Regions from separate parts of the Homo sapiens genome. Here all the other regions are linked to region 1. Evidence: fine-mapped expression QTL. A gene starts in region 1. Each other region holds a variant in brackets. All regions are shown on one strand. Distances are between the middles of the regions.

Region 1 (4,438 bases):
ATTACAGGCGTGAGCCGCAGCGCCCGGTCCATAAACAGGCTTTTTGATGCAAGACTCTTATCTGCAAGTTTTCAAAAACAACAGGGTGGATGGAGGCCTTTGAGTGGTAAATGGTGATGACAAGTTTAATCTGAAGGAAGAGACAAGCAAAGAGAAACTGAAGGGCAGGAAGGAGGAACAGAAGGGCACCAGAAGAACACCACGCTTTGAGTAATGAAAAGGGGGGGTGGAAATTAACTGAGTCCTTACCAAGGATCTACTGTGAGCCAGGCATCTGGAGCTGCAAAGATGGACCATGCCCTCAAGGGGCTAGAAGTCCGCAGGGTAAGACTGAGGCTAAGACCCTGTTTTGTGAACGTGTAATTCTAATTGGGAAAATCAAGCAGGGAAGGCTTCACAGAGAAGGTGGTGATTTAGTGGAGCCTTTGAAATGTGGAGGAGGATTTGCTAAGGGAGAAAAACGACAGTTTGAGCTAGTTATTTTGGGGGAGAAACATTCACATATTTTTATAGCTGTTCATTTGGAACTTTAAATCATGGGAGGCTTCTTAAATTCAGCACCACTCTATCAATGTTCTCTTTCTCTTCTTGCTTTATCTTAAATACTGAAATGTTCAAGCCCAACCTTGGGGCAAAGGCAGAAAGCCTCGGACAGAAAGCCCCGGAATGAGGTGAGTGCTAGCCAAATCTGCTCTGTCACCTCCAAGTCCAGCCCGCCCAGCTAGCCCAGTCAGCCCAGTCCTGCTCTCTTGGCAGGAAAGGAAGGCTAATAATATCCCCTGAGGGCCAGGGTAAGGGGGGGGGGGGGCGCGGCGGGGGTGATCTGGATGCCAGCAGGCAAGGATCACTCTTGTTCTGTCAGTAAGCCACCAAAGGAAAGCTTCCCTGCTTCCTAATCCACGGGGCTCCTAGTCTACCTGTGATAGGGAGGCCAGCTCTGCAGGAAGAAAAAAAGGGCTTCATGACAAGGAAGGGGGAAGCATTTGGATTGGGAAGTGCAGAGGTGGTTATGCGAGGTTATCTTAATAAAATGCTTAGCAAGATCCCTGGCACACAGCGAGCGGTGGAAGAACGTTAGCTCTTATATTAATAACACTATTATTATTACAGTAACACCTCAATTGTACTCCGACAACAAGAAAATCTTTTTTGTGCAGCCTACTTTTACGACGTTCGAGAGCAACTTCAGAGATGACAAGTGATTTCAAAATTTTTTCAAAGGTACGAGATCAAATTCCAACCGCACTGGCCTGAGAGCCCGAGACCCTGAGTTGAGAGCTGACCCTGCCACTTGTCAGCTGCGTGACCTTGGGCATGGCACTTCACCTTTCCGTGCCTCAGTTTCCTCGGCTGTTAAGTGGGGCTAAGAAGCCTCTCCCCGGTAGGGTAGTCGTAGGGTCCCGTTAGAGGATGCCCTCTGCTGCTCTGGGGCCGGACGGGTGCAAGGGCTGCTCACGGCCCCTCTTCCAAGCATCTGGGCTCTTGGAGCGGGCGAGGTAGATGGATGAGCAACCCCAAGGCCCACCAAGCTCTGCCGCCTGCAGAGCCAGAGCGAGAGAAGGGTTCGCGCCTGCGGGGGGCGTCCCTGTGACCCAGGGTGTTGAGCCCGGAGGGAGGCTCTCTTGCTACCCACACGCTGTCGCCGGCGGGCTGGGCGCGGGGAGCGGCCGAGGAAAGCCGGGCTGACCTGGGTCCGGCGGGCGGGCGGGGCGGGGCAGAGGGCCCCGGGGGCACGGGGGAGGCAAGCAGCACGGGCCACCAGGGCCTCGCCGTGCCGCGGAGATGATGCGGGGAAGGAGCAGGGCAAAGGAGCGACGCCCCCGAATGCGGCGCCGCGCGCCCCCCGCGGGCCGGGCGGAGGCGCTCACTCACCTGAGGCGCGGGCACCCGCCGTCAGTGCAGCAGCAGCGGCGGCGGCGGCGGCGGCGGCGGCGGCGGCGGCGGCGGCGAGAGGGGCGGGGGAGGTGCTGCGGTCCGCGCAGGCGCGCCGAGGACGCCAGGGCGGCGCATGAGTGCTGTGCCCGTCCACCTCGGGAACTACCGAGAAGATGGTGGCTGAGCCAGGAGAGGCCGGCGGCGCCATCTTTGATGTAGTTTTTCTTGCTGCGGAGTTTCCTCAGAGAAGAATCTCAGATTTTGGAGGCGCTGGGCGGCAGGGCCATTGAGCTCTGCGTCTGGAGCGCTTCCCTCAGTTCCCTGAGTCGCATCCTTATGAAGCCCCTAAGAGCTCTTGCAGGGTATGGCATCCTCCTTTTAAGGTGACCTAGAGCCATACCCAAGGTCACAGGGCGCCTAGCACAGTGCTCGGCACGTGGAAAGAGCTTAGTAAATTTTTGGTGAATGAACATAGTAATTTAAGAACTAGAGTCCAAGACTCAGGGCTCCGAATTACCAGTCCTCCATTGTATCACCCCTATTACAACCGTCAGCCAAATCATCTACTTTCTTGAATGCAACATTAGAGATGGAATTTTTTTTCCCAGAATGATTGCAGATATTAAACTTAATGACCCAACAATTTAACACCAAAATGTACAGGACACACTCTTCCTCTATTTATTATCTATTATTTCTTTACCATTAAGTACCACTGACTAAAAGTTTTTTTGTTTTGTTTTGTTTTGTTTTTTGAGACGGAGTCTCACTCTGTCGCCAGGCTGGAGTGCACTAGCGCGATCTCGGCTCACTGCAACCTCTGCCTCCTGGGTTCAAGCGATTCTCCTGCCTCAGCCTCCCGAGTAGCTGGCACTGTAGGCGTGTGCCACCGGGCCTGGCTAATTTTTCTATTATTAGTAGAGACGGGTTTTCACCGTGTTGGCCAGGATGGTCTCGATCTCTTGACCTCGTCATCTGCCCGCCTCGGCCTCCCAAAGTGCTGGGATTACAGGTGTGTGAGCCACCACGCCCTTTTAACCCGAGCCAGTGTCGCCATCTCGGCTCAGGTTCCCAAGTCCCTCAGCCTCCCAAGTAGCTGGGACTAGAGGCGGGCGCCACCATGCCTGGGTAATTTTTGTATTTTTTTTTTTTTAGTAGAGATGGGGTTTCACCATGTTGGCCAAGCTGGTCTCAAACTCCTGACCTCAAGCAATCCGCCTGCTTCTGCGTCCCAAAGTGCTGGGATTACAGGTGTGAGCCACCACGCCCGGCCACTAAAAGCATATTCTTTTAATTAAGGCAAACTGAACAAATGAATATTACCAAACATCTCAGAGGGCAGCAATAATATTGTTATTCATCAAGCACAATTCTTGAACTGAATTTAGTTGGAAGGAAAACTAACATTAATTGAGCACAGCCATTTATTTTATGGTTTATGTTCGTTAACATTTACTGAATTCAAATTAGTTCTAGTTCACCATCCACTATTTATCCCTATGTCCTTGGTTAGACAATTAAGTCTCTCCACACCTCTCCATGCCCGAATTCCTCATCTATGTCACACACCCAGAAATAGAAGTTACAAGGTTGTGGCAAAGACTGAATGATAATATGCATGTAAAATGCTTAGAGCTCAGTAAGTATTATTTTTCTTTGTTCTATCGTATTTTACTGTTGAAGACACAAAACATACTTCTTGAGTTTGAAGAAATCCTTATAAGCAAAAAATGCAATACAATGTAATAAATAAAAAGGGGGAGGGTATAATCATCTTTAGAGAGATAATCTGTCCCCATTTTACAGATGAGGAAATTGAGGATAAAATGAAAATTCATGGCCGGGCGCAGTGGCTCACGCCTGTAATCCCAGAACTTTGGGAGGCTGAGGCGGGCAGATCATGAGGTCAGGAAATCGAGACCATCCTGGCTAACAAGGTGAAACCCCGTCTCTACTAAAAATACAAAAATTAGCTGGGCGTAGTGGCGGGTGCCTGTAATCCCAGCTACTCGGGAGGCTGAGGCAGGAGAATGGTGTGAACCCGGGAGGCAGAGCTTGCAGTGAGCCGAGATTGCGCTGCTGCACTCCAGCTTGGGCAACAGAGCGAGACTCCGTCTCAAAAAAAAAAAAGAAAAAGGAAAATTCACTCCAACTCTCTCCATTGTACTACTTTGTTTATGAAAGAGTAGGCAATTAAGAGCATTTCTCTGATTCTTGAGATACAGATAGAGATAGATATAGACGAGGGTCTCACCATGTTGCTCAGGCTGGTCTAGAACTCTTGGACTCAAGCAATCCTCCTGCCTAGGCCTCCCAAAGTTCTGGGATTATAGGCATGAGCCACTGTGTCCCGCTCTGCTCTGATTCTTAAATGTTGGATTTCCATGAGACCATCCAAACTTTCCCTTCTTGCTCTACTGTGGACTATATCATTCATTCTCAAGTCATCAAGAACTAGACATCAGCAACTCTCAAATGTTATTTCCAGTCTCGATTTCTCCACCCAGTTCTCCACCTGTGTTATTTGACAGACCAGTTGATTTCTCCATTTGGTATTCCAAAT
Region 2 (4,438 bases), 28 kb before region 1:
TTGGGAGGCCGAGGCGGACGGATCACTTGAAGTCAGGAGTTCAAGACCAGCCTGGCCAACATGGCAAAACCCCATCTCTACTAAAAATACAAAAACTAGCTGAACATGGTGGCAGGTACCTATAATCCCAGCTACTTGGGAGGCTGAGGCAGAAGAATCACTTGAACCTGGGAGGCAGAGGTTGCAGTGAGCCGAGATCATGCCACTGCACTCCAGCCTGGGCAACAGAGCGAGACTCCATCTCAAAAAAAAAAAAAAAAAGATTTACCTCACTTTCTACTGTAACAACCAAAACAAAGTATATAACTTTTTTCTGTTCTCTCTACTAAACATTTATTCCCCTTTCTGCTATTTCCTCAATTCTTCAGAAGCCAAGTGTGGCCTTCTACTTGTTTTCTCAAGCCTCACCTTTGGCTTTCACAGGGTTCAGTAGTATCTGAACCTAGTAGGTAGAGGAAGGCAGGGAAAATGAGGCAAAACAGTCTACTCTCCTGTTTATTACAAGGTCTTTTGGGTGAGGAGCCTGGAACAACCAGGTACAAGAGGCAGTAGATGGTGGGAAGAACCCTAGACCCCCAGGTCCAGGTCAAAGTCAAAAGATGTAGGTTCTAGCCTGGCTTCACCAACTTAACAGACACTAGCTCTGAACAAATCAGATAACCTCTCAGTGTCATCTGTAAAATAGAGTTAAAATATCTTCAACTATTTACAAGAGACTGGAAGATTAAAATAAGATATTATTGGTGAAAGTGCTCTGAAAATAGTTAAATGCTATTTTAAAAATCATTTCATATGCCCATGCAATTTCTGTCCCGCAAAACAAAGTACTGGTGGTTGCTTCTTTTCATCACTAGAGCCAAAACAAGTATGACAAAATTATCCACTTCTTGACAATTCTGAGCCGTAGACAAAATTACAGGCATACTAAAATAAAATGGGAAAAGTACCAACAAATGACAAGAGACAACATAAGCCTTGCTCAAAGCTATATTGAGAATGCCTCCTTACAAGTCATCTCAGGACAAATTTCACGGTAAAAGGTTGGTTCTAGTCTTCCTTTAGCTTCCTGAAGCCTGGAGGATGCAGCAATGTCTTCAGTATATTTATGAGAATAATGGACAGAAGGATAAGGTGAAATACTACACATTTTTAGGCTTCTCCTTAAAGAGACAGGGTAAGCCACAAAGGTGATGCCAAAACATCTATAGGATTAACACAGTGGAAACAGCTCAGGTTTTAAGAGTAGGAAAGACTTTGGTTTCTGTCTGGCTTTGCCACTTCTTTACTGGGCAAACCAGCCTTTCATTCGGATTTTTAATCTGTGAAGTAGGAATAATACTATCTATCTCAAAGGGATATTCTGAGAGAGAGAATGTATGTAAAGCACTTGGCACATAAGAGATAATAAATCATAGCAGGACAGGCAAAAACAACAACAACAAAACCCTCAAGCCATCTACTTCTATGCAAATCTGAAGGCTTTTCCTCTATACCAGTGGTTCTTAACCAAGGAAATTTTGCCTCCCAGGGACATCTGGCAATGTCTGGAGACATTTTTGGTTGTCACCACTGGGGAGTGCTATTAGCATCTAGTGGGTAGAGGCCAAAGATGCTGCTAAACATTCTACAATGCACAGAGCAGTGTTCCACAACAAACAATTATCCAACCCAAAACATCGACAGTGAGAAATCCTGCCATACAGCAGGCATTCTTTGATACTCAATAGGAGTAAGCTACTTCACCTTTCCTAGCCTTCGTTTACTCACTGGCAATGTGGGAATACATTTATCTGTGCTCCTTCCTCATCAAGCTATTGGGAGGTTCAAATGAAGTAATGGATGAGAGGCATTATTATCATTATACCTTTTACTATATACACAAAACCATCCACTTGCTGCGCAAAGACAGAAGCATTCACATACTGGGGAGGGGGAGAGGGAGGCTAACGGGGTGGAAGTCTTTGTTTGGAGGTGCCATGATCTAAAGAGGGCCTCTTGCCTATCTACCTGCTTGGCGAGAGCCAAGAGAGTTCTCATGAATAGTGATGGCACAGGAGCACTTACGTCTCAGGGAGAGAAAGGAGTAAGGTGGAATGTGGGAAGTGGGTAGGAACAGCATAGGCCTATCAAAGAGGAGCAGATAGATGTTAGGAAGTGAGACACTGCTTTGTGTCTTAGTCTACTCGGGCTGTCATAACAAAATAACATAGACTTGATGGCTTAAAACAACAGAAATTTATTTTCTCACAGTTCTGAAGGCTGCAAAGTTCAAGATTAAGGTTCTAGAAGGGTTCAGTTTCTCATGATTAATCTCTTCCTGGTTTGTGGACAGCTGCCTTCTTGCTGTGTCCCCATATGGCAGGGGAAGGGAGAGAGAAAGAGAGCCTCTTTCTCTATTTATTTATTTTCTGAGACAGGGTCTCACTCTGTTGCCCAGGCTGGAGTGCAGTGGCACAATCACAGCTCACTGCAGCCTCAACCTCCCAGGCTCAAGTGATCCTCGCAGCTCAGCCTCCCAAGTAGCTGGGACTACAGGCATCTGCCACCACACCTGGATCATTTTTTTAATTTTTTGGTAGACAGGATCTCCCTTTGTTGCCCAGGCTGGTCTTGAACTTCTGGCTTCAGGTGATCCTCCAGCATCAGCCTCCCAAAGTGCTTGGATTATAGGTGT[G/T]AGCCAGGTTATAGGTGTGTGCCTGGCTCAGATTTTATTTCCTTCCTCCTCTCCTAGGCACAACATTTTTGGCACAGCCCTTCACATACACACATACACAAATGGTACTTAAAGGAGAGAGTTTTCTGGAAATATGAGGGGATGCAGCAGGAGAAACCAAATGGAGGTTAAAAAAGCGTGCAGTGGCCGGGCGTGGAAGTTCACGCCTGTAATCCCAGCACTTTTGGAGGCCGAGGCGGGTGGATCAAGAGGTCAAGAGATCGAGACCATCCTGGCCAACATGGTGAAACCCCATCTCTAGTCAAAATACAAAAATTAGCTGGGCATGGTGTTGCACACCTGTAGTCCCAGCTACTTGGGAGGCTGAAGCAGGAGAATCGCTTGAACCCGGGAGGCAGAGGTTGCAGTGAGCCAAGATCACGCCACTGCACTCGAGCCTGGTGACAGAGCAAGACTCCGTTTCAAAAAAAAAAAAAAAAAAAGCCTGCAGCTTGCCAAGGGAGAGAGAAGTCTGGTGAAAGATAAAAGAAGGGGTGGGAGTGGGAATGGAGAGGTCACAGGGATGAAAATAGGGGTGGCAGGATTCAAAAGCAAATTAGTAAGCACAAAATAAGTCAGCAGCTCCAGAGGCTGCAGGTGAAGGGCCTTGCCTTGGGCAGATAAAAAGTAATAAGCAACAGATCATCCCCTGGTGTCACCCGCACACCCCCCCTCCCCGCCCCTCCGCCCATCCATCTTTATCCTCACACTCCGTCAACACTCCCTCAGGAAAGGATGGCATGGCCTCACTCACACAAAGCTACAAGAGTATTTCAAGAGGGGACAATGACAATACACCAAAAGAATAGAGTGGAAAAGAAGGAATTTCAAGCAGCTGGGCATGGTGGCTCATGCCTGTAATCCCAGCACTTTAGGAGGCCAAGGCAGGTAGATCACAAGGTCAGGAGTTCGAGACCAGCCTGACCAACATGGTGAAACCCTGTCTCTACTAAAAATACAAAAATTAGCCAGGTGCACGCCTGTAATCCCAGCCACTCCGGAGGCTGAGGCAGAAGAATCACTTGAAACCGGGAGGCGGAGCTTGCAGTGAGCCGAGATTGTACCACTGCACTCCAGCCTGGGTGACAGAGTGAGACTCCGTCTCAAAAAAAAAAAAAGAAGGAATTTCAGGCACATTTACCGAACAATAAGGAACAAGAGAGAAAACAAAACTTCTTTTCTTTTTTTTGAGCCAGAGTTTTGCTCTGTCGCCCAGGCTGGAGTGCAGTGGCATGATCTCGGCTCACTGCATCCTCTGCCTTCCGGGTTCAAGTGATTCTCCTGCCTCAGCCTCCTGAGTAGCTGGGACTACAGGCCTGCACCACCACGCCCAGCTAATTTTTGTATTTTTAGTAGAGATGGAATTTCACCATGTTGGCGAGGCTGATCTCAAACTCCTGACCTCAAGTGATCCGTCAGCCTTGGCCTCCCAAAGTGCTGGGATTACAGGCATAAGCCACTGCACCTGGCCAAAACCTTTCTTTTGGTAAATCATATCACACCAGTGTCTAGTGGTCATCAACTGTGGTCTCATCTGCTCCTTGTGTAGTTCTCTGACACTAACATAAAAATGTGGTATATTACTGACATCCAGTCCTCCCTGATGTCATATTGACAGAAAGACCACATCATAGACTTGGCAAACTTCAGGGAGAACACTGCAGCCTACGCACATCACCAGCCATGGATGGTAAATTTTCCTTATTGAAACTGAAAGTCAAGACA
Region 3 (4,438 bases), 56 kb before region 1:
TAAAAAAAAAAAACAGAGTACAGGCTTGAAAACATGGATTTCAGTTCTACTTTCTTAGCAGTGCATTGTATAATCTGCAATCCTTTAGCAGACATGAAGGCGAGATGTGATTCCAGTATCCCCAGAATACATTCCCCTGCACACTTCCCAGGAACTTTATACCATTAACGAATGTAGGAACAAGGAGGGAAAGTTACCACAGAGAGGGGGAAACCTCTGCTCTATTAGAATATTGTTGTTGTTTGGTTTTTAACATACAAAGATCAAGTATGATAAGAAGGGAAGGTGTAAAATAAAATACATACGGTTGAGGCCAATGTCATGATATGTTAGTATAACTGGTCTGTTTCCTTTGGGTAAGCCTCTTATAGTGACGTGGACCACACCATGAGTTGTTTCTATATCATGTTCCTGTAACAAGAGAATGTAAGTTCTCAGAAAAAGCAGAATGAACTTCCCAGGTTGCCAAAGTTTCACAATACCTGCTTTACCACCGTTTCCCACGAGCTGGGGCAGGACACATTAATAAATTACATGTGGCTGGGCGTGGTGGTTCACGCCTGTAATCCCAGCACTTTGGGAGGCCTAGGTGGTCGGATCACTTGAGGTCAGGACTTTGAGGATCAGCCTGGCCAACATGATGAAACCCTGTCTTTACTAAAAATAAAAAATCAGCCAGGCATGGTGGCACACGCACATAATCCCAGCTACTCAGGAGGCTAAGGCTGGAGAATCACTTGAACCTGGGAGGCAGAGATTACAGTGAGCTGAGATCGTGCTACTGCATTCTAGCCTGGTGACAGAGCAAGACTTCGTCTCAAAAAATAAAATAAAATAAAATAAATGCATACCAGAGAGATGCTAGAGTATACATAATATTCCTACTTTCCAATTCTTCCAGAAAAATAAATAGGGAGCAAAACACACCTTGTTATCTCCAAAGCTCACTTACGAGCCCAGGGATCTGTTGAGAATACATTTGCAATTGGCTATGGAAAGGAAATCAGCAAATTGGGTAAGGAGCCAGGTAAGACTTGTGGGGAAAAAAGGAAATGGAAGATATGAAGAAGTTGCTGGGTAAAAAATCAGAGGTTTTGGAGCTTCTGAACACATGTTCAGATAATTTATAATTAATTTCAGTAGATAATTTCACCAGACACCTATGGGTGTATCTGCCTAGGATCCCTTCTTTCCTGGGAGCTGTCCTTCTGTGTCATCCACACGTTACAGGGGTGGATCTTGGCTACCATGTTTGTGGAACATAAACTTACGGCCATAGCTTACTGGAGTCAGGGAGGCATCTGGCCCAGGCTGGGTCAGCACCTTTCCCTTGGAACTAAGAGATTTTTTTTTTTTTTTTTTTTTGAGACAGAGTCTCGCTCCGTCACCCAGGCTGGAGTGCAGTGGCGCGATCTCGGCTCACTGCAAGCTCCGCCTCCTGGGTTCACGCCATTCTCCTGGCTCAGCCTCCCAAGTAGCTGGGACTACAGGCACCTGCCACCACGCCCAGCTAATTTTTTGTATTTTTAGTAGAGACGGGGTTTCACTGTGTTAGCCAGGATGGTCTCGATCTCCTGACCTCATGATCCACCCACCTCCGCCTCCCAAAGTGCTGAGATTACAGACGTGAGCCACCGCGCCCAGCCTGTAATTGGAACTAAGAGATTCTAACTTCAGCTTGGCTCTCCTCTTGAAAAGAGGAATCAACTTGGGAGATTTTAGTAGGCATTTCCACTACTCTAATTTCTGGTGCTAGCTGTGTATACTTCTAAGTTCTAAGACATCCCTGGACTGCCTCTGGTTTAAGCTATATTGGGTGAGTTTGTACCCTCTACTCCTAAAAGATCTTAACCAAGCCAATCAGTTAAAGATGTAGCCAGAGCAAAGCTCAGGAACCAAATAGAGCAGACAAAAGATGCACCGAGCAAAGCTCAGGAACCAAATAGAGCAGACAAAAGATGCACCGAGCAAAGCTCAGGAACCCAATAGAGCAGACAAAAGATGCACCGAGCAAAGCTCAGGAACCGAATAGAGCAGACAAAAGATGCACCGAGCAAAGCTGAGGAACCCAATAGAGCAGACAAAAGATGCACCGAGCAAAGCTCAGGAACCCAATAGAGCAGACAAAAGATGCACCGAGCAAAGCTCAGGAACCCAATAGAGCAGACAAAAGATGCACCGAGCAAAGCTCAGGAACCCAACAGAGCAGACAAAAGATGCACCGAGCAAAGCTCAGGAACCCAATAGAGCAGACAAAAGATGCACCGAGCAAAGCTCAGGAACCGAATAGAGCAGACAAAAGATGCACCGAGCAAAGCTCAGGAACCGAATAGAGCAGACAAAAGATGCACCGAGCAAAGCTCAGGAACCGAATAGAGCAGACAAAAGATGCACCGAGCAAAGCTCAGGAACCGAATAGAGCAGACAAAAGATGCACCGAGCAAAGCTCAGGAACCGAATAGAGCAGACAAAAGATGCACCGAGCAAAGCTCAGGAACTGAATAAAGCAGACAAAAGATGCACC[G/A]AGCTGCTGAGAGTAGATGCCGCACTAAGAGTGGTTGGGTGGAAAAAAAAGGGACTACTGAAAAGTTAACTGAGATTTATTCTAGTCGTGCTCAAGTTTTATATTTCTCAAAAATAAAAAAATTACCATTCCTATCCTAGCGAATTTCTGTTGATGAAGCCTGTATCTATCTTACAAAGTCTTACATTAGGTAAGACAAGATTAACTCTGTCAATGAGAATCCCAAAAAAGGCAAAGGGCTTCCAGTTTAATTTCCTATCTAATAATGAACCTCATAAGAGCTTTGGTTTCTTCTCTGATGTGGGCACCAGAAGACAATCTTAAGCTAATTGGACATCAGTATATCTCAAATTACAGGCCCTAGGCTGGAGCCGATAGCCATCCCTACCAAATCAAACCATGTGTGACTCAATATTTCTGTTATTTTCTATTACTACTACCTCCTAGTCAAGTCTATTCAAAGCCTTCAAAAATGAACATAAGAAATGAAGACTAGAATCAGGTACTGTGAAACTGGCTATGAAATAAAGTATAGGCCAGGCGCGGTGGCTCATGCCTGTAATCCCAGCACTTTGGGAGGCCGAGGCAGGCAGATCATCTGAGGTCAGGAGTTCAAGACTAGCCTGTCTAGCACAGTGAAACTCTGTCTCTACAAAAATATAAAAATTAGCCAGGCATGATGGCAGGTGCCTGTAATCCCAGCTACTTAGGAGGGTGAGGCAGAAGAATTGCTTGAACCCGGGAGGCAGAGGTTACAGTGAGCCGAAATTGTGACACCACTGCACTCCAGCCTGGGTGACAGAGTGAGACTCTGTCTCAAAAAAATATAACAAATAAAGCATAAGGTTTGGATAGGAGGAATATAAAGAAATAACTTCCTATTTCTGTATTTCTCTTACAGTAATGTCAGACTTATTAAAGGACTCACTTCCCGACCCTGGTTCATTCATTAAACATCTATTTATTGAATGCCACTCCATGCCAGACCCTGGTCTGAGTTGTGGGGATAAAACAGTAAACCTGAGAAATGTGATCCCAGTCTTCACAGAGATTATGTTCTACATAGGGAGGCACACAATAAACACAGAAACAAATCCACCTGTAATAATAGCTTGTGATAGGTGCTATAAAAGAAACAACTAGGGTGCTACGATAGAAAAGTAAGAAGACATTACCTTCACTAAACAGACAGGAAAATGGAAATTAAATTCAATAAAATACTATTTCATACATACCAAAATGGCAAAAATGTAAAGTCAGATAATGCTAAGTGGTGACCAGGATGCAGAGAAATAACTAAGAACCAACATATACTGTTTTTTACGTTTTGTTTTGTTTTTGAGACGGAGTCTTACTCTATCGCCCGCCCAGGCTGGAGTGCAGTGGCACGATCTCAGCTCACTGCAACCTTCACTTCCCAGGTTCAAGCAATTCTCCTGCCTCAGTCTCCCAAGTAGCTGGGACTACAGGTGTGCACCACCAAGCCCCACTAATTTTTGTATTTTTAGTAGAGATGGGGTTTCACCATGTTGTCCGGGCTGGTCTCGAACTCCTGACCTCAAGTGATCCACCTGCCTCGGCCTCCCAAAGTGCTGGGATTACAGGCGTGAGCCACCGTGCCCCACAAGAATCAACATATACTGTTGGTAAGGCATATAAACTGGAACAACTACCAGGAGAATACTTTGGTAATTTCTAGTAAAGTTAAGAGGTGTCTACCCTACAGAAATTTTACCCTACAGCAATTTTACATATAGATATAATCTAAGGCTGGGGCCTTAGATTTCTGGTGCTAGCTGTATGTATTTGTAAATTCTGAGACATCCCTGGATTGCCTCTGGTTTAAGCTATATTGGGTGGGTTTGCACCTTATACCCCTAAAGGATCTTAACCAAGGCAGTGGTGGTGGCTCAT
Region 4 (4,411 bases), 170 kb before region 1:
CTGCCTCAGCCTCCCAAGTAGCTGGGATTACAGGTGTGTGCCACCACACCTAGCTAATTTTTTTTTTTTTTTGGTATTTTTAGTAGAGACGGGGTTTTGCCATGTTGGCCAGGCTGGTCTCGAACTCCTGACCTCAGGTGAGCCACCCACCTCGGCCTCCCAAAGTGCTGGGATTACGAGCGTGAGCCACCGTGTCCGGCCTTTGTTTGTTTTTGTTTTTTTTTTTTTGAGATGGAGTCTCGCTGTGTCACTAGGCTGGAGTGCGGTGGCACGATTTCGGCTCACTGCAACGTCCACCTCCCAGGTTCAAGCAATTCTGCCTCAGCCTCCCGAGTAGCTGGGACTACAGGCACGCGCCACCATGCCCAGCTAATTTTTGTATTTTTAGTAGAAACAGGGTTTCACCCTGTTGGCCAGGATGGTCTCAATCTCTTGACCTCGTGATCTGCCTGCCTCGGCCTCCCAAAGTGCTAGGATTACAGGCATGAGCCACTGTGCCCGGCCTTTGTTTTTTGAGACCTTTTTTATTTTGTTGTCACCCAGGCTGAAGTGCAGTGGCACAAACACAGTTCACTACAGCCTTGACCTCCTGGGCTCAAGCAATTCTGCCTCAGTCCCACAAGTAGGTGGGCTTACAAATGCACAGCATGACACCTGGCTTATTTTTGTATTTTGTGTGTGTGTGTGTGAGCCACTGCGCAGGCCTTGGGCAGCTTTCTTGATCTCTGTTACCTCATCTATAAAATGATGATAATAATAGCTTCTCCCTTATTGGGGAATTGTAATGATTAAATGAGATAACATGTAAAATGCTCAGTACAGGCCAGGCATGGTGGCTCACGCTTGCAATCCCAGCACTTTGGGAGGCTGAGGCTGCTAGATCTCTTGAGGCCAGCAGTTAAGACCAGCCTGGCCAATATGGTGAAACCCTGTGTCTACCAAAAAATACAGAAAGTCAGCCAGGCATGGTGGTGCATGCCTGTAATCCCAGCTACTCAGAGGCTGAGGTGGGAGAATCACTTGAACCCAGGAGACAGAAGTTGAAGTGAGCCAAGATGGCGCCACTGCACTCTAGCATGGGCTACAGAGTGAGAGCCTCTCTCAAAAAAAAAAAAAAAAGAAAAGAAAAAACCAAATGCTTAGTACCGAACATGGAAAACAGTAGACCTCAGTAGAAGCTGTAATTGTTTCCAGCCTGAGTCCTGCTTGTGAATGAGCTGCCATTCGGTAGTCACCTACCTGTTCCATGAAGTGGAGGAACTTTGGACTCATCCCTTCTAGCTTGCTCGGTCTGTGTTACGGCCTGAGATTCTGAATTGCAACTACCCCATTTCTGGTGTCCCAGGCTCAAGTAATGCTGAGCATGTTTGGAGACTAGGAAAAGGCGGTACGTGCTAATGATGTTCCCATCCCCTGTGTCCCTTGTCCCAGGTTTACCCAAGGTCCAGCCTAGCCCCTAGGCACCATGTCGGACAGTGATCTAGGTGAGGACGAAGGCCTCCTCTCCCTGGCGGGCAAAAGGAAGCGCAGGGGGAACCTGCCCAAGGAGTCGGTGAAGATCCTCCGGGACTGGCTGTACTTGCACCGCTACAACGCCTACCCCTCAGAGCAGGAGAAGCTGAGCCTTTCTGGACAGACCAACCTGTCAGTGCTGCAAGTAAGGAGGGGATCTGGATAAGGGGGTGGCAGGAGGACCTGGGTTCTAGTCCTATTCCAGCTGTGTCACTGAGTCACTGTGGTCTTGGGCCACTCACTTTCACTGTCTGGGCTTCGGTTTCTTCTTGGGTTAGGGGAGAACACCCACTCTCCCTGTCTCAAGGGAAGACAATGAAATAGGGTCGCTGCAGTCAATTTCAGACTTTAGATAGTCCTTTTTTTTTGAGACGGAGTCTTGCACTGTCACCCGGGCTGGAGTGCAGTGATGCGATCTCGGCTCACTGCAACCTCCGCCTCCCGGGTTCGAGTGATTCTCCTCCCTCAGCCTCCCGACTAGCTGGGATTACAGGCGCCCGCCACCACGCCCAGCTAATTTTTTGTATTTTTAGTAGAGACAGGGTTTCA[C/T]CATGTTGGCCAGGCTGGTCTCGAACTCCTGACCTTGTGATTCACCCGCCTCAGCCTCCCAAAGTGCTGGGATTACAGGCGTGAGCCACCACGCCTGGCCCAGACTTTGGATAGTTCTGAAGAGGCAAGGAATTTAATGTTGTCAAAGTCTAGGTGTCATCCTTAACTTTGGAGGCCAAGGGAAGATGAGAAGGCATCGAGCATCTAGGATTCAGCCCCCAGCCCCAACGCAGTATTGGACGGCGACTTGGTTGAAAGGGGCAGCTGTAATTTGCAGTGTGGTTAAGAGATGGGGCAGGATCACAGTCCAGGAAAGGGCAGAAGTCAGAGGTTCTGTGTTCATAATCCAGTTCTGCCTCACGTCTTGATTTCCTTATCTGTAAAGGGGCAGGGGGTACACAGAGTCTTCCCCTGCCTGGTGGATCTGTTGTGACGAATAGATTCAGAACTGGATGTGAAAGTGCTTTGCAAACCATGCACATGAACACACTCAAAAGATAGCCTTATCCCCTTTTTGTCAGAGTGCAAAGTACTGTCCCCTTTGAATCGCGCCTATTGCTGACCCGCAGGTGTCTTTGTTCTGCTTTCCTGGAGCAGAGGCGGGGGACCCTGAACCACCATTGCTTTGCCTCCAGTTTGCCTCTCCCCTTCCTGGAGACACACAGTAGGCCCTTAGCCTAATACAAGAGGCCCAGCCCTGCCCTGCTGGCCCCCACTGCTCCCTTCCTGAGCCAGTCAAACCTCTCCCACAAGCTCTCCTGTTTCTCTTTCCCCCTCTGTCCTTTCATAGCTTATTACTCCAACCTTTGATGCTGTCTCTCCCTCCTTCCCTTATCCCACTCTGAACCTCCCACGTCTTCCTAGCTCCTATCTTTCTTCCATGTAGAGACATGGTAAGTATTTTAGCCCTCAGAACTCCTGTCACCTGACTTTATACTCTGGGCAATGGTTAATCCAAGTCTCTGTATGAGAAAGGCTCTAAAGTTACAGATCCTGACTCAGATTCCATCTTCTCCACAAGAGGAAACCTGGACCTTGGCCAGGTCACTGCCTTCTCTGTGAGCCTCATTATTCCCTCATCTGAAAAAAGGGAGGTGATTGTAGCACTTTCATGAGTGTAGGGAGAAAGGGACGAGAAGAAGAATTCAAGGCTCACTGGGGCCCTTCACAGTGGCTCACACCTGTAATCCCAGCACTTTAGGAGACCAAGGTAGGAGGATCGCATGCGCCCAGGAGTTTGAGACCAGCCTGGGCAACATAGGGAGACCCCATCTGTACAAAACAAAAAAATTAGCTGGGCATGGTGGTACATACCTGTAGTCTCAGCTACTTGGGGGGCTGAAGTGGGAGGAAGGATTACTTGAGCCCTGGAGGTGGAGGCTGCAGTGAGCTGTGATCGCACCACTGCACTCCAGACTGGGCGAAGGAGTGAGACATTGTCTCAAAAAAAAAAAAAAAAAAAAAAAAAACAAGGCCAGGCACGGTGGCTCACACTTGTAATCCCAGCACTTTGGGAGGCCAAGGCGGGTGGATCACCTGAGGTCGGGAGTTCAAGACCAGCCTGGCCAACATGGAGAAACCCCATCTCTACTAAAAATACAAAAAAAATTGCCAGGTGTGGTGGTGCATGCCTGTAATCCAAGCTACTCGGGAGGCTGAGGCAGGAGAATTGCTTGAACCTGGGAGGCGGAGGTTGCGGTGAGCCGAGATGGTGGCATTGCACTCCAGCCTGGGCAACAAGAACAAGACTCGGTCTCAAAAAAAACACCTACTGGTCAGTGTTTGGCATACAGTGGGTGTTTCTACTGTTTTCAGCTTCATCTCTGCCTAAGGCACAAAGTCTTTGGCTGATCCTGGGTGCCCAGCAGTGCGTGGCATCTCACAGTGTACCTCCTCAGCATGGAGCTGTGCAGAGTTGGGATCTGAGAGAGGCTCCAGACACATTCTTACCCTCGAGGAGTGTCTGGACAGCCTCTTTGCGGGTCTCCCTGCCTTCAGCCTTCAGCCTTCAGCCTTGTTCATTTAATCCATTATTTTGAACACAAAAGCCCAAATCTGATAGGGCCAGGCACTCCTGGACTCTACTGCCCTCAGGATAGAGTCCAAACTGATCTACAGCCTAGGTTTGGGGCTGCTGCTTATATTCCCAGTGCACCTCACCCTGTCCTGTCAAACCACTTGTCACACTCTATTGGAATTACTTTTTGTCAGGGACACTTTCTCAAACCTGAGAAATATACTAACTCCTTTTATTTATTTATCTGTGTGTGTGTGTGTGATGGAGTCTTGCTCTGTCACCCAGGCTGGAAGTGCAGTGGTGCGATGTCAGCTCACTGCAACCTCTGCCTCC
Region 5 (4,438 bases), 210 kb before region 1:
GCGTCACTGCACTCCAGCCTGGGCGACAAAGCAAGACTCCGTCTCAAAAACAAACAAACAAACAAAAAAAAAAAAACAAACAAAAAAAACCATGAAAGCTAAAACTAGCAAACTCTTACAAGAAAACAGAAGTGGGCCGGGCACGGTGGCTCATGCCTGTAATCCCAGCACTTTGGGAGGCCAAGGTGGGTGGATCATGAGGTCAGGAGATCGAGACCATCCTGGCTAACACGGTGAAACCCCGTCTCTATTAAAAATACAAAAAATTAGCCGGACGTGGTGGTGGGCACCTGTAGTCCCAGCTACTGGGAAGGCTGAGGCAGGACAATGGCGTGAACCTGGGAGGCGGAGCTTGCAGTGAGCCCAGATCACACCACTGCACTCCAGCCTGGGCGACAGAGCGAGACTCCATCTCAAAAAAAAAAAAAAAAAAAAGAAAAGAAAAGAAAACACAAGTGTAAACATTCATAACCTTGGATCAGGCAATGACTTCTTGGGTATGACACCAAAGCACAAGCAACCAAAGAAAACACAGATAAACTAAACTTAAAAGTTAAAAACACTTGTGCTTCGGCCGGGCGCGGTGGCTCATGCCTGTAATCCCAGCACTTTGGGAGGCCGAGGCCAGTGGATCATGAGGTCAGGAGTTCAAGACCAGCCTGACCAAGATAGTGAAACCTTGTCTCTACTAAAAATACAAAAATTAGCCAGGTGTGGTGGTGGGTGCCTGTAATCCCAGCTACTCGGGAGGCTGACGCAGGAGAATCACTTGAACCCAGGGGTCAGAGATTGCAGTGAGCCGAGATCGCACCACTGCACTTCTAGCCTGAGCGACAAAGCAAAACTCCATCTCAAAAAACAAAAAAAAAATAAAAAATAAAAAATAAACTTGTGTTTCAAAGAACACATGTTTATCAAGAAAGTGAAAGGATAACTCACATAATAAGAGAAAATATTTGCAACTCATTTATCTGATAAGGGTGCAATAGCCGGAATATGTAAAGAACTTCTACAGCTCAAAACCAAAAGACAAATTTTTAAATAGGTAAAAGGATCTAAATAGACACTTTTTTTTTTTTTTCTTTTTTTTTTTTTGAGACAGAGTCTCACTCTCTGTTGCCCAGGCTGGAGTGCAGGGGCATGACCTCAGCTCACTGCAAACTCCACCTTCCGAGTTCAAGTGATTCTTGTGCTTCAGCCTCCCGAGTAGCTGAGACTACAGGCACCCACCACCACCCCCAGCTAATTTTTGTATTTTTAGTAGAGACGGAGTTTCGCCATTTTTGCCAGGCTGGTCTCAAACTCCTGACCTCGGGTGATCTGCCTGCCTTGGCCTCCCAAAGTGCTGGGATTACAGGCGTGAGCCACCACCGCGGCCAGCCTAAATAGATAATTCTCTGAAGAAGATACACAAATGTCCAATAATAAGCATGTGAAAAATGCTCAACATCTTCAGTCACTAGATAAATGCAAATCAAAACCACAATGAGATGCCACTTCACACCTAATAGCATGACTAGAATTAAAAAGACAAGCAGGGCCAGGTAGCTGTAGTCCCAGCTACTCGGGAGGCTGAGGTGGAAGGACTGCTAAGCCCAGGAGTTCAAGTCCAGCCTGGGGTAACATAGTGAGACCCTGGCTCTAATACAAACACAGACAGACAAGTATTAGTGAAGAAGTAGAGAAACTGGAACCATCCACTGCCGGTGGGAATTCAAAATGGGACAACATTGTGCAAAATTGTTTGGAAGTTCCTTAAAAGGTTAAACATAGAGGCGTTACCATATGACCCAGCGGTTCCACTCTTATATACCTGAGAAAGTGAAAACGTATATCCACA[C/A]GTAAACCTGCAGATTAATGTTCACGGCACCATATTCATAATGGACAAAAAGTAGAAACAACCCAAATGTCTATCAGCTGACAAATGCAAAAACAAAATGTAGCATATAGCCATACAACAGAATACTACTTGGCAATGAAAAAGACTGAGGTCCCGGGACATTCTGCAATATGGATGATCCCTGAAAATATTATGCTAAGCGAAAGAAGCCAGACATTGTATGACTGCATTTGTTTGAAGTTTCTAGAGTAAACAAGCTGGCTAGGCGTGTGGCTCACACCTGTAATCCCAGCACTCTGGGAGGCTGAGGCAGGTGAATCACTTGAGGTCAGGATTTCGAGACCGGCCTAGACAACATGGTAAAACCCCATCTCTACTAAAAATACAAAAATTAGCTGGGGTGGTAGCAGGTGCCTGTAATCCCAGCTACTAGGGAGGCTGAGGCAGGATAATCACTTGAATTCAAGAGGCAGAGGTTGCAGTGAGCCCCACTGCACTCCCGTCTGGGTGACAGGGTGAAACTCCATCTCAAAACACAAAAACAAATTTCTACAGTAAACAAACTGATAGAGAGGGAAAGTAGATCCATAGTCTCCAGGGGCTGGGATGAGAGGAGAATGGGAAATGACTGCTGACAGGTACAGGGTTTCTTTGGGGGATTACTTACTAAAATGTTATGGAATTACATAGTAGTGCCGATAATTACATAGCTTTGTAGATACACTAAAACCAATGAATTGTACATTTCATAGGTGAATTTTATGGTTTATAAAAGATAACAATTTAAGCTTTTCTTTAAAATACAGAAAACCTGTAGAATAAGAAAAATATTTACAAATCATATCAAGGGATTAATATCCAAAACATATTTTTAAAACGCCTAGAATCAAAAAAAAAACAACCCTGCTCTTTTAAATGGGCCAAGAATTTTTTTTTTTTTTTTTTGAGACCGAGTCTCACTCTGTCCACCAGGCTGGAGTGCAGCGGCGCGATCTCGGCTCACTGTAACCTCAGCCTCCCGGATTCAAGTGAGTCTCCTGCCTCAGCCTCCCGAGTAGTTGGGATTACAGGCGTGTACAACCACACCTGGCTAATTTTTGTATTTTTCGTAGAGAACAAGATTTCACCATGCTGGCCAGGCTTGTCTCAAATTCCTGGCATCAAGTGATCCACCTGTCTAGGCCTCCCAAAGTGCTAGGATTACAGGCAAGAGCAACCACACCAGGCCCCTTGTACACTGTTGATGGGAATTTAAAATGGTACAGCCACTACAGAAAACAGTTATTGCAGTTCCTCGGAATGTTAAAAATAGAATAACCATTTGATCCAGCAATTCCATTTCTGGGCACATACCCAAAAGAATTGAAAACAGAGACTTATATGTTCACAATGTCAGGTTAAAAAAACAATAGCAGGAACTTGAAGAGACCCATGTTCACTGAAGCATTATTCAGAATAGCCAAAAAGTGGAAGCAACCCAAGTGTCCATCCATGATGAGTAGATAAACAAACTATGCAAACAATGGAATATTATTCAGCCTTAAAAAGGACGAGAGCCTGGGCAACATGGCAAAATCCCACTTCTACAAAAAGAATTTTTTAAAAAATTAGCCGGGGCCAAGCACAGTGGCTCAGGCCTATAATCCCAGCACTTTGGGAGGTCCAGGCAGGACGACTGCTTGAGGCTAGAAGTTTGAGACCAGGCTGGGCAACACAGGGAGACCCTGTTTCTACAAAAGTAGAAAACTTAGCCAGGTGTGGGCCGGGCGCAGTGGCTCACATCTGTAATCCCAGCACTTTGGGAGGCTGAGGCGGGCAGATAATGAGGTCAGGAGATCGAGACCATCCTGACTAACACGGTGAAACCCCGTCTCTACTAAACATACAAAAAAAAAAAATTAGCCGGGCATGGTGGCGGGCGCCTGTAGTCCCAGCTACTCGGAAGGCTGAGGCAGGAGAATGGCATGAACCCGGGAGGCAGAGCTTGCAGTGAGCCGAGATCGCGCCACTGGACTCCAGCCTGGGTGACAGAGCGAGACTCCGTTTCAAAAAAAAAAAAGAAAACTTAGCCGGGTGTGCTGGTGCATGCTTGCAGCCCTAGCTACTTGAGGGGGTCAAAGCAGGGGGATTGCTTGAGCCCAGGAGGTCAAGGCTGCAGTGAGCTATAATTGTGCCACTGCATGCCACCCACGGCGACAGAGTGAGACCCTATCTCAACCCCCCACCCCCAAAAAGAAATTCTGATATACACTAAACATGGATGAACCTGGGGCTTGAGGACATTATGCTGGGTGAAATAAGCCAGTGACAAAAGGTCGAATGCTATATGATTCCACTTACATGAGGCCCCAATAAGTAGATAAACTCACAGAAAACAGAAAGATGAATGATGACTGCCAGGGGCGGGGAGAAGGGGGCAAGGTGGAGTTAGTGTTTAACTGGCAGGGAGTTTCGGCTGAGGAAGATGAAAGTGCTCTGGAGATGGATGGTGGTGATGGTTGCAAAACAAAGTGAATATACTTAATGCCACCAAACTATACACTTAAAAATGCTGAAAATGGCATGAACCTGGGAGGCGGAGCTTGCAGTCAGCTGAGA
Region 6 (4,438 bases), 63 kb after region 1:
TTTATGCCCTAATTTTTTTTCCCTAAAGTAAGTTTCTCTCTCTTTTACTCTAGGATATGGAAATGGCTAGAAAGGTTTTCACCAAATGTGGAGGGTTCGTCTGAGACAAACTGACTTAAAATATAGACTGTGTGGCCTGCAGGTCATTCCCTTAAACTGGGCTTCATCCAGAGGCCTGTGAGACTTCCAAACAGGTGAGAGGGCTCCTATGTTTCCAAACGTCACAGAAGAGACAGCTTCGGACAGGAGGACCGAGGCGAATGCTCCCAGGGGCGGCCCTGTGTCAGGCACTGCAGGGCCAGGGCAGCAGGGTGTGGGCCTATGGAATGGCGGTAGTGACTCTCCCATGAGGCCCTGGGGAGGAGCTGGTGGCCTGCGAGAATGATGAGCCCCACTGAGATAGGGTGATGCAGGGTCTTGCTACACACTCAGGTCTAACTGTCTTGCCTGGCTCCTGGGGCATCTGGGCTCCTCTGGAGTACCCCTGATGGCGTAAGTGGCAACTTGAGGCATGCCAATGCTCCCTACTGGATCTGGACAGGGGACTACAGAGAGCAGCCTGGACTAGAGGAGGGCCAAGCCTGGGCTAGACTCGAGGTACCTGAACCCAAAAGGACACGGCCAAAGTGAACAATGTCAACTAAGATGAGTGTGACCAAGGTCTGACATCCTTGTAAGTCCCCTTCTCTTCCCTGATGTGTTGATGTGTGCTGCTGTGCTGATGACAGGACGCAAGGGCTTTGAGCAGCAAAGGGTCCTGCATAGACTGGGGCATGAATGGGTCAGGTGGGTCCTTTCTAAGCTTCTTACATTCCCAGAGCTCCGCCCCCACGTTTCCTGCCACATCCTAATACCACCTGTACTATCACCAATGTTTTTAAGCCAGCCTACTCCCTCTTGTTAAGTAAACATATCTTTTGGCCAGGCATGGTGGCTCATGCCTGTAATCCCAGCACTTTGGGAGGCCAAGGCAGGTGGATTACTTGAGGTCAGGAGTTTGAGAGATCAGCCTGGCCAACATGGAGAAACCCTGTCTTTTTTTTTTTTTTTTTTTTTTTTTTTTGAGAAGGAGTCTTGCTCTCTCTCCCACTCTGGAGTGCAGTGGCACAATCTAGGCTCACTGCAAGCTCCGCCTCCTGGGTTCACGCCATTCTCCCGCCTCAGCCTCCCGAGTAGCTGGGACTACAGGCACCCGCCACCACACCTGGCTAATTTTTTGTATTTTTAGTAGAGACGGGGTTTCACCATGTTAGCCAGGATGGTCTCGATCTCCTGACCTCGTGATCCACCCGCCTCGGCCTCCCAAAGTGCTGGGATTACAGGTGTGAGCCACCGCACCCGGCCAAGAAACCCTGTCTTTACTTAAAATACAAAAATTAGCTGGGCATGGTGGCATGTGCCTGTAATCCCAGCTACTCGGGAGGCTGAGGCAGGAGAATTGCTTGAACCCGGGAGATGGAGATTGCAGCAGGCTGAGATTGCACCACTGCACTCTAGCCTGGGCTGGAGTGAGACTCCATCTCGGAAAAAAAAAAAAAAAAGCAACGAATGCAGGAAGGAAGCCTGCATGCTGATGGCAGGTATGTGAGCCTAGGAGTTGTGTCAATACCAGCTGGGCGTCCCTTCCCTGTCCCTCTCTCCCCAGCCCACACTCCCAGTCCCAGTCCCTGGCCCAATCTTACCTCGAGGAAGTCATCCCCTTCGCTGGGCAAAACCTTGCCCTGCCGCCAGCGCTTGAGGAACCACCTGAGCTTCATGAAGAGCAGCAGGAAGTTGTGCTTGAATTGCTGGGACTCCTGCACCAGCATGTTCTTCTCCTGGCTCCAGAATTTCTGCTCCAGCCTCCGCTGGAGGCTCAGACTCTGCAGCTCAAACTCCCGCCTCAGGAGCGCCCTCTGCTGGTCCTCCTTCAGCTGCCGGGGGACAAGAGCTTGAGCAACCCCAGGGCCCTGTCCTCTCCCCCACCCCTTTCTGGGCCCCTGGACAGGGGCAGGGAGGAAAGTCTGGGTGGTGCCTGTGAGTGATCCCTGCCGGGGATCCCACCACACGTGGCGCAATCTATTCAGATGAGCACTGCCCTCTGCTCCTGCAAAAACAGTGACACATCATTGAAGGAGCTGGGATTTGACCCTGGCTCTAAAAAACCATGACATCATATACTGAGCACCTCCTGGGCACCAAATGTCTCACACGAATGCTCATGTTCAATGAGGAACCTGCGAGGGTGAGCGATGATAGCAGGGAGGGGTGACGCATGGAGAGCAAAGGGCGTGCCAGGGTTGAGGACAGCTGATGACTAGGCAACACCCTAGGAAGCAATGCAGTGTCATGCCTAACAGAGGGACCTGGATTAGAGGCCCAGCCCTGCCACACTCTGGATGTGCAACCCTGGGCAGAGCACTCCAGCTCTCTGGGCATCAGTTTCCCCATCTGCAAAATGGTGATAAGGGAGGGCACAAGGATTAAAAGACATAATGGGTAGAAAGTGC[A/G]TTGGACAGGCCCACCATACAGTAAGGGCTTAACAAATGTTATTCCAGAACTATTATCTTGATTAGAAGCCAGGCCTGATGAGGGCACCATTTCATAAATGGGAAACTGAGGTCCTGAGAGAAAACAGGACTGGCCCCAGGTCCCACAGGCCGCCAATGACAGCCCTGTTACACAACTAATGCACAATGGCAAGGACAATAACATCCCAGCAGGGCACAGGGGCTGAAGACTCAGGTTTCCCTTGACATTCTTTCATTCTTTTTTTTTTTTTTTTTTTTTAGATATCACTCTGTCACCCAGGCTAGAATACAGTGGGATGATCTCGGCTCACTGTAACCTCCGCCTCCTGGGTTCAAGCGGTTCTCTTGCCTCAGCCTCCTGAGTAGCTGGGATTACAGGCGTGCTAGTGCACGCCTGGCTAATTTTTGTATTTTTAGTAGAGGCGGGGTTTCCATGTTGGCCAGGCTGGTCTCAAACTCCTGGCCTCAAGTGATCTGCCTGCCTTGGCCTCCCAAAGTGCTGGGATTACAGGCGTGAGCCACCACACCCAGCCTCCCCTGACTTTCTTGACTTCAGAGGGCCCATAGATCCTCAAGGCCTCTGCTTCCAGCTCAGAGAGGCTGTAGGAATAGCTGCCTGGAAAGCGCTGGGCACCACGCACCTGGACCATTTTCTGGTTGAAATTGTCGGCCTCCTCCTTTCGTAGCTGCCGCTCCTGGGAGAGCTGCTCTTGCAAGCCCCGGAGGCTGTCGTGGGCCTCAGCCAGCACCAGCTGCAGCTCCTTGATCTGTGGTACAGACAGGGGACACAGATAATGAGGAGGGAGAGAGAGGAAGAAGTGGATAGAAATTGTGATCTAAGGATGACAGTGGTAGGGGAACGATGGGATGTTGGACCCAAGCTGTCCAAATACAAATCAGGCAGAATGACTGTCCCCACCTCTGAGGGTCGTCATGATGATTAAATGAAACAGTACATATCAAATCTGGCTTTTGTTACCATTGGAACTTGTTCTTTTCTCTCTGAAATTTATCTTAATAAGGTACTGGGAAAACTAAGTTTGATTCACAAAGATGTTCATTGTTTCATTGTTTATAATTGCAATATTTTAGAAACAACTTAGATACTAAATGATGGGACTTAAAAGATGCTTAATGGATCTATACATATGTAACAATCCATTCAGTGGTACCCTTAAGGACAGTGTCCTTTATTGTATGTATGTTATTATGTTATACTACAACAGAAAGTAGAAAAACAAAACCAAAAACGCTATAGGCCTCCATAAAAAAACATACAAAGGACATGGACACACACAATAAATGTAACCAGTGGGAACTATGTGAAGACCTTCTGACCTCCAACCTTCACCCACCCTCCCCTCCTTCTCTCTCTCCCTCTCTCTCTCTCTCTCTCTCTCTCTCTCTCTCTCTTTCAACGGAGTTTCGCCAGCTTTGAGCGTGATCTTGGCTCACTGCAACCTCTGCCTCCCAGGTTCAAGCGATTATCCTGCCTCAGCCTCTCAATTAACTGGGATTACAGGCACCCGCCACCACGCCTGGCTAATTTTTGTATATTTTTGATAGAGACAGGATTTTGCCATGTTGCCCAGGCTCATCTCGAACTCCTAGGCTTAAGCAATCTGCCCACCTGGGCCTCCCAAAGTGCTGAAATTACAGGTGTGAGTCACCGTGCCTGGCCCCAGAACTCCTACATAAAACCTTCCTAGGCATGGCAAATGTCCCTCTGTGAGAAAGTAAACATTCATTATATGGTCAATAATATGATGATTTGGCAGTGGAAGGCACAGTGACTTGAGGTATATCTTCTATATCTGTTTTGCATTAAAAATTTTTGCAGGGCTACATACTGTCTGCTGTCCCTGGTTTCCTCCCTGAACTCAGTGGTCAACAGCACTGGGCAATTGTCACTACTCAATAAAGAGTGG
Region 7 (4,438 bases), 340 kb before region 1:
GCAATGCGGTATCCTCGACTGGATCCTGAAACAGAAAAAGGACGTTAATGGAAATGGTGAAATCCAAATAAAGTCTGGAGTTTAGTTAATAGTAATGTACCAATGTTAATTTCAACAAATGTACCATTGTTATGTAAAATGTTAACATTAGAGGAAACCAGGTGAGGGTTATACAAGAAGTCTCTATACTATCTGCAACCTAGAATAATCTAAAACTATTGCCAAATAAAAGGCTTTTTTTTTTTTTTTTTTTGAGACAGAGTCTCGCTCTGTCACCCAGGCTGGAGTGTGGTGGCGCCATCTTGGCTCACTGCAACCTCCACCTCCCGGGTTCAAGCGATTCTCATGCCTCAGTCTTCCAAATAGCTGGGATTACAGGCATGTGCAGCCATGCCCAGCTAATTTTTTTGTATTCTTAGTAGAGGCGGAGTTTTGCCATGTTGGTCAGGCTGGCCTCGAACTCTTGGTCTTCAACTCCTGGCCTCAGCCTCCCAAAGTGCTGGGATGACAGCTGTGAGCCACCGTGCACAACCTAAAAGACTTATTTTTTTCATGTATCCCAGAACTTAAAGTAAAATAAAAAAAATTTTTTTAAGACTTTTTTTTTTTAACTCTTTTTTTTTTTTTTTTAACTCTAAAGAAACATAGGCTGTGTGCAGTGTCTCATACCTGTAATCCTATGGGAGGCTGAGGCGGGCAGATCACCCAAGGTCAGGAGTTTGAGACCAGCCTGGCAAAACCCCATCTCTACAAAAAATACAAAAATTAGCCAGGCATGGTGGCATGCACCTGTAGTCCCAGCTACTAGGGAGGCTGAGGCAGGAGAATCACTTGAACCCAGGAGACAGAGGTTGCAGTGAGCCAAGATCACACCACTGCACTCCAGCCTGGGCAACAGAGCAAGACTGTCTCAAAAAAAAAAAAAGAAACATAATAAAAAGCCCTCCTCCTGGCCGGGCGCAGTGGCTCAAGCCTGTAATCCCAGCACTTTGGGAGGCCAAGGTGGGCGGATCACGAGGTCAGGAGATCGAGACCATCCTGGCTAACACGGTGAAACCCCGTCTCTACTAAAAATACAAAAAAATTAGCCGGGTATGGTGGCGGGCGCCTATAGTCCCAGCTACTCGGGAGGCTGAGGCAGGAGAATGGCATGAACCCGGGAGGCGGAGCTTGCAGTGAGCCGAGATCACGCCACTGCACTCCAGCCTGGGCGACAGAGTTAGACTCCGTCTCAAAAAAAAAAAAAAAAAAGTACTCCTCCTACTCTTTCTTCCATCCACCTTGTTCCTGTTCCTAGTTTATTGGGTACCCTTCCACTGATAGGCAAATACGAATAAAATTCTTGGACCCCTCTTTTAGAGGATTGGTAGCTGCATACTGTAGCAGATGCTGTCAGTGCCCTGCCTCTACCACCTCAAGCTCAGTTTGGTTTATGCCAGCCACTTCCTTCTGGAAAAACCTGCATTTCTCCAGCTGAGGGCTTTCTTTCAGCCTGCACTGGGAGGGTGGAAGTGCTGGGGTGTTCATTTCCCCAGGGGCAGCCCTCAGCCATTGCAGAAGGAAGTGGAGAATACGGACCCCAACTCCCTCGCCCTTCCATGGGATAACTCTGAGATATGTGTTCTACCTGAAGTGTAGATGTGATAATCCAATTTTGCATCACTATAAAGAAATATCTGAGGCTGAGTAATGTATAAAGAAAAGAGCTTTAATTGGCTTACAGTTCTGCAAGCTATACAAGCATAGCTCCAGCATCTGCTTCTGATGAGGGCCTCAGGAAGCTTCCAATCATGGCTGAAGGTGAAGGGAAAGCAGGCAGTGTCATATGGCAAGAGAGGGAGTGTGGGGGATAGGGGAGGTGCCACACCCTTTTAAACAACCTGGTGAACTACCAGAGTGAGAATTCACTCATCACTATGGGAATGGTGCTAAGCCAT[T/G]CTTGAGGGACGTGCCCCCATGATCCAAACACCTCCCACCAAACCCCACCTCCAACACAGGGGATCCCATTCCAACATGAGATTTGCAGGGGACAAACATCCAAACCATATCAGCAGAGTTCCCAGCGGGGTTAAGCCTGGGTGCCACAGCGAGGTTGTGCAGCCTTCATTGGCTCTCCTTGTGTCCCCATCCCCACACTGTACTTCCTGGGATCACCTCCCAAATAGATTCAAATTCTTTTTTGTTTTGTTTTGTTTTGTTTTGTTTTTTGAGACAGAGTCTTGTTCTGTTGCCCAGGCTGGAATGCAGTGGGATGATCTCAGCTCACTGCAACCTCCGCCTCCTGGGTTCAAGCAATTCTCCTGCCTCATCCTCCAAGTAGCTGGGACTACAGGCATGCGCCATCGCACCCAGCTAATTTTTGTATTTTTAGTAGAAATGGGGTTTCACTATGTTGGCCAGGCTGGTCTCAAACTCGTGACCTCAGGTGATCCGCCCACCTCAGCCTCCCAAAGTGCAGGATTATAGACGTGGGCCACCGCGCCTGGCCTTCAATTCAAATTCTTGTCTGAGGGTCTGCTTCTCGGAGAACCCAAATCAGACAGATGCCCTGACCCCGTTCTGCCCCTTGCTGTGTTCACTTTACAGTACCTTTGGAGAGCTTTCCACATCAGTACACTCAGTGCCACCTTATTCTTTTTGACAGCTGCATAGCAGTCCATGGGGTGCTGGGTGATCTTTTACCCGGTCTCCTCATGGACAGCCTTTTGGGATGTTTTCAGCCCTTTGCTAATACAAATATTATGTCAGGAAAGGCCCCACACACCCATCATTTCCCACGTGCATAAGGCAAGGCCGCTGGTAATTCCTAGAAGCGGAATTGCTGGCACCCATGGCCTTTGGGGTCTCCTCTATTTTGATGGCTGATGGCCTACAGTTTAAATCCAGAGTTCCTAGAGGGGCAGGGGGCATCAAGCCCTCCAGGATCTGAGCCCAGGCATTCGCTTCCCTGTCTCCCTCAAAGCCCATGCCCACCACATGGACAATCTGCTGTCCCCCAGCACTCCCTGAATCCCTCGCCTTTGGCCATGATTTTGTCTCTACTTATCCCTTTTTATGAAACGCTCTTCCCTGTACCTTTGTCTGTGGAAATCTTACTTGTCCTCAGAGATCTGGCTGAAATACCGTCTCCTCTGGGGACCCTTCCTGGTGCCCCTGTGAGTATTAATCTCTGTCTTCACTGGGCTGCACATCCTGGCTTCGACACTCCAGGATTTATTTTTATGTGTTCTCCAAGTGCTGTGTGTATTTCTGCCTCCCTCCACTTGTCCACAAGCTCTTTAAGGGCTGAGGCCATCTGAGTCACAGAGCAGGCTCCATAAATGTTGGAAGAATTGAATTAAATGTGCTGGCAATTGCTGCATTCTGACCATTTTGTTCTGCTGTTTGCCAGCATGACCTTCCAGGATGGTTCCCCAGTGGGGGCCGGAATGAAACAGGGCGAGGCAGGTGGCCTCCAGAATCCGCCTGCCCTGCAGTCAGAGCTCTGAGGCTAGAGGGCAGGGCAGCATGGACAGCCTTTGCACAGTCCTCCCCTAAGAGGCATCTCCCAGCCTGTCAGACGAAGGTTTTGGTGAGCCCACAGTTAGAGGCTGTGTCCCCTGAGCATGGCCCAGGCTCAGGGTTCTGTGAGGTGGTGGCCAACTGGACATTGTCTCCTGAGAGCTGAGAAGCAGCACAGGAAGCTCATTAGTGGCATGGGCTCTGGAGCCAAATTGCCTGGGTTCAAATCCCAGCTCTGACACCTGTGTGACCTTGTACAAATCATTTCTCTCTATGCCTCTGTTCTCTTTCTATAGAACGGGACCAACAATGAGACCTCCTTCATAGGGCTGATTGGAGGATTCAAAAAGATCATCCAAACAAAGTGCTTACGTGTATGTAGGAAGCATCTGATCAGTAAGCTCTGAAAAGGTCTTGATTCACAAGACTTTTGGGAGTTCATGTAACAACCGCAGCACCTCTTTATTGAGCACCTACTAGAGACCTTATGGGGTGCTCTCTGTGTACACTCATACTGGAGCTTACAGATACATCCTCCAGGTGAAACGCCTTTTAAAACTGAGGTAGAATACATATAAAATTGGCCATTTAAACCATTTTAGAGTTACAATTCAGTGGCATGAAGTATATTCACAGTGTTGTACAGCCATCACCACTGTTTATTCCAGAACTCTTTTCTTTTTTTTTTTTTTTTTTGGAACAGAGTCTCACTCTGTCACCCAGGCTGGAGTACAGTGTTGCGATCTTGGCTCACTGCAACCTCCGCCTCCTGGGTTTAAGCGATTCTTGTGCCTCAGCCTTCTGAGTAGCTGGGGTTACAGGCGTGTGCCACCACACCTGGCTATTTTTTGTATTTTTAGTAGAGACAGTTTCACCATGTTGGCCAGGATGGTCTCGAACTCCCCACCTCAGATGATCCACCCACCTCGGGCTCCCA

Alleles and levels. Alleles are on the strand shown, and positions count from the first base shown. SD is a standard deviation of normalised expression in the study named. Not every link is listed here.
For the expression in platelets of the gene that starts at base 1,918 in region 1, allele G in region 3 goes with a lower level than allele A (large effect, 1.2 SD a copy in CEDAR).
With allele C in place of A in region 5, the expression in lymphoblastoid cells of the gene that starts at base 1,918 in region 1 is higher (large effect, 1.4 SD a copy in GEUVADIS).

The links. PIP is the estimated chance that this variant, and not a neighbour inherited with it, causes the effect. A credible set is the group of variants that fine-mapping cannot tell apart.
Region 2: its variant is the best candidate, but not a certain one, in a credible set for the expression of NDRG3 in prostate (GTEx, PIP 0.64).
Region 3: its variant is the best candidate, but not a certain one, in a credible set for the expression of NDRG3 in platelets (CEDAR, PIP 0.88).
Region 4: its variant is the best candidate, but not a certain one, in a credible set for the expression of NDRG3 in whole blood (TOPMed, PIP 0.65).
Region 5: its variant is the best candidate, but not a certain one, in a credible set for the expression of NDRG3 in lymphoblastoid cells (GEUVADIS, PIP 0.81).
Region 6: its variant is the best candidate, but not a certain one, in a credible set for the expression of NDRG3 in whole blood (TOPMed, PIP 0.62).
Region 7: its variant is the best candidate, but not a certain one, in a credible set for the expression of NDRG3 in whole blood (TOPMed, PIP 0.88).

What each region holds. Positions count from the first base shown.
Region 1 is chr20:36,744,173-36,748,610 of GRCh38, forward strand. NDRG3 (NDRG family member 3) reads right to left here and starts at 1,918. Exons shown (of 16, transcript NM_032013.4): 1 at 1,873-1,918. RefSeq lists enhancers at 1,381-2,347, 2,072-2,171 and silencers at 1,542-1,731, 1,762-1,961.
Region 2 is chr20:36,716,289-36,720,726 of GRCh38, forward strand. The region is part of intron 2 of NDRG3 (NDRG family member 3); the gene reads right to left. Among named protein-coding and RNA genes, the nearest start is that of NDRG3, 28 kb to the right of the region's middle. The variant G/T (reference allele first, on the strand shown) is at 2,675.
Region 3 is chr20:36,688,374-36,692,811 of GRCh38, forward strand. NDRG3 (NDRG family member 3) reads right to left here. Exons shown (of 16, transcript NM_032013.4): 4 at 306-411. Among named protein-coding and RNA genes, the nearest start is that of SLA2, 44 kb to the left of the region's middle. The variant G/A (reference allele first, on the strand shown) is at 2,525.
Region 4 is chr20:36,577,310-36,581,720 of GRCh38, forward strand. TGIF2 (TGFB induced factor homeobox 2) reads left to right here. Exons shown (of 3, transcript NM_021809.7): 2 at 1,432-1,657. The coding sequence starts at 1,466. TGIF2-RAB5IF (TGIF2-RAB5IF readthrough) reads left to right here. Exons shown (of 5, transcript NM_001199535.2): 2 at 1,432-1,657. The coding sequence starts at 1,466. Among named protein-coding and RNA genes, the nearest start is that of TGIF2-RAB5IF, 5.0 kb to the left of the region's middle. The variant C/T (reference allele first, on the strand shown) is at 2,062.
Region 5 is chr20:36,535,343-36,539,780 of GRCh38, forward strand. The region is part of intron 2 of DLGAP4-AS1 (DLGAP4 antisense RNA 1); the gene reads right to left. Among named protein-coding and RNA genes, the nearest start is that of MYL9, 4.0 kb to the right of the region's middle. The variant C/A (reference allele first, on the strand shown) is at 1,841.
Region 6 is chr20:36,806,831-36,811,268 of GRCh38, forward strand. MTCL2 (microtubule crosslinking factor 2) reads right to left here. Exons shown (of 15, transcript NM_080627.4): 7 at 3,152-3,277; 8 at 1,683-1,913. Among named protein-coding and RNA genes, the nearest start is that of DSN1, 35 kb to the left of the region's middle. The variant A/G (reference allele first, on the strand shown) is at 2,490.
Region 7 is chr20:36,408,801-36,413,238 of GRCh38, forward strand. The region is part of intron 2 of DLGAP4 (DLG associated protein 4); the gene reads left to right. Among named protein-coding and RNA genes, the nearest start is that of DLGAP4, 100 kb to the left of the region's middle. The variant T/G (reference allele first, on the strand shown) is at 1,938.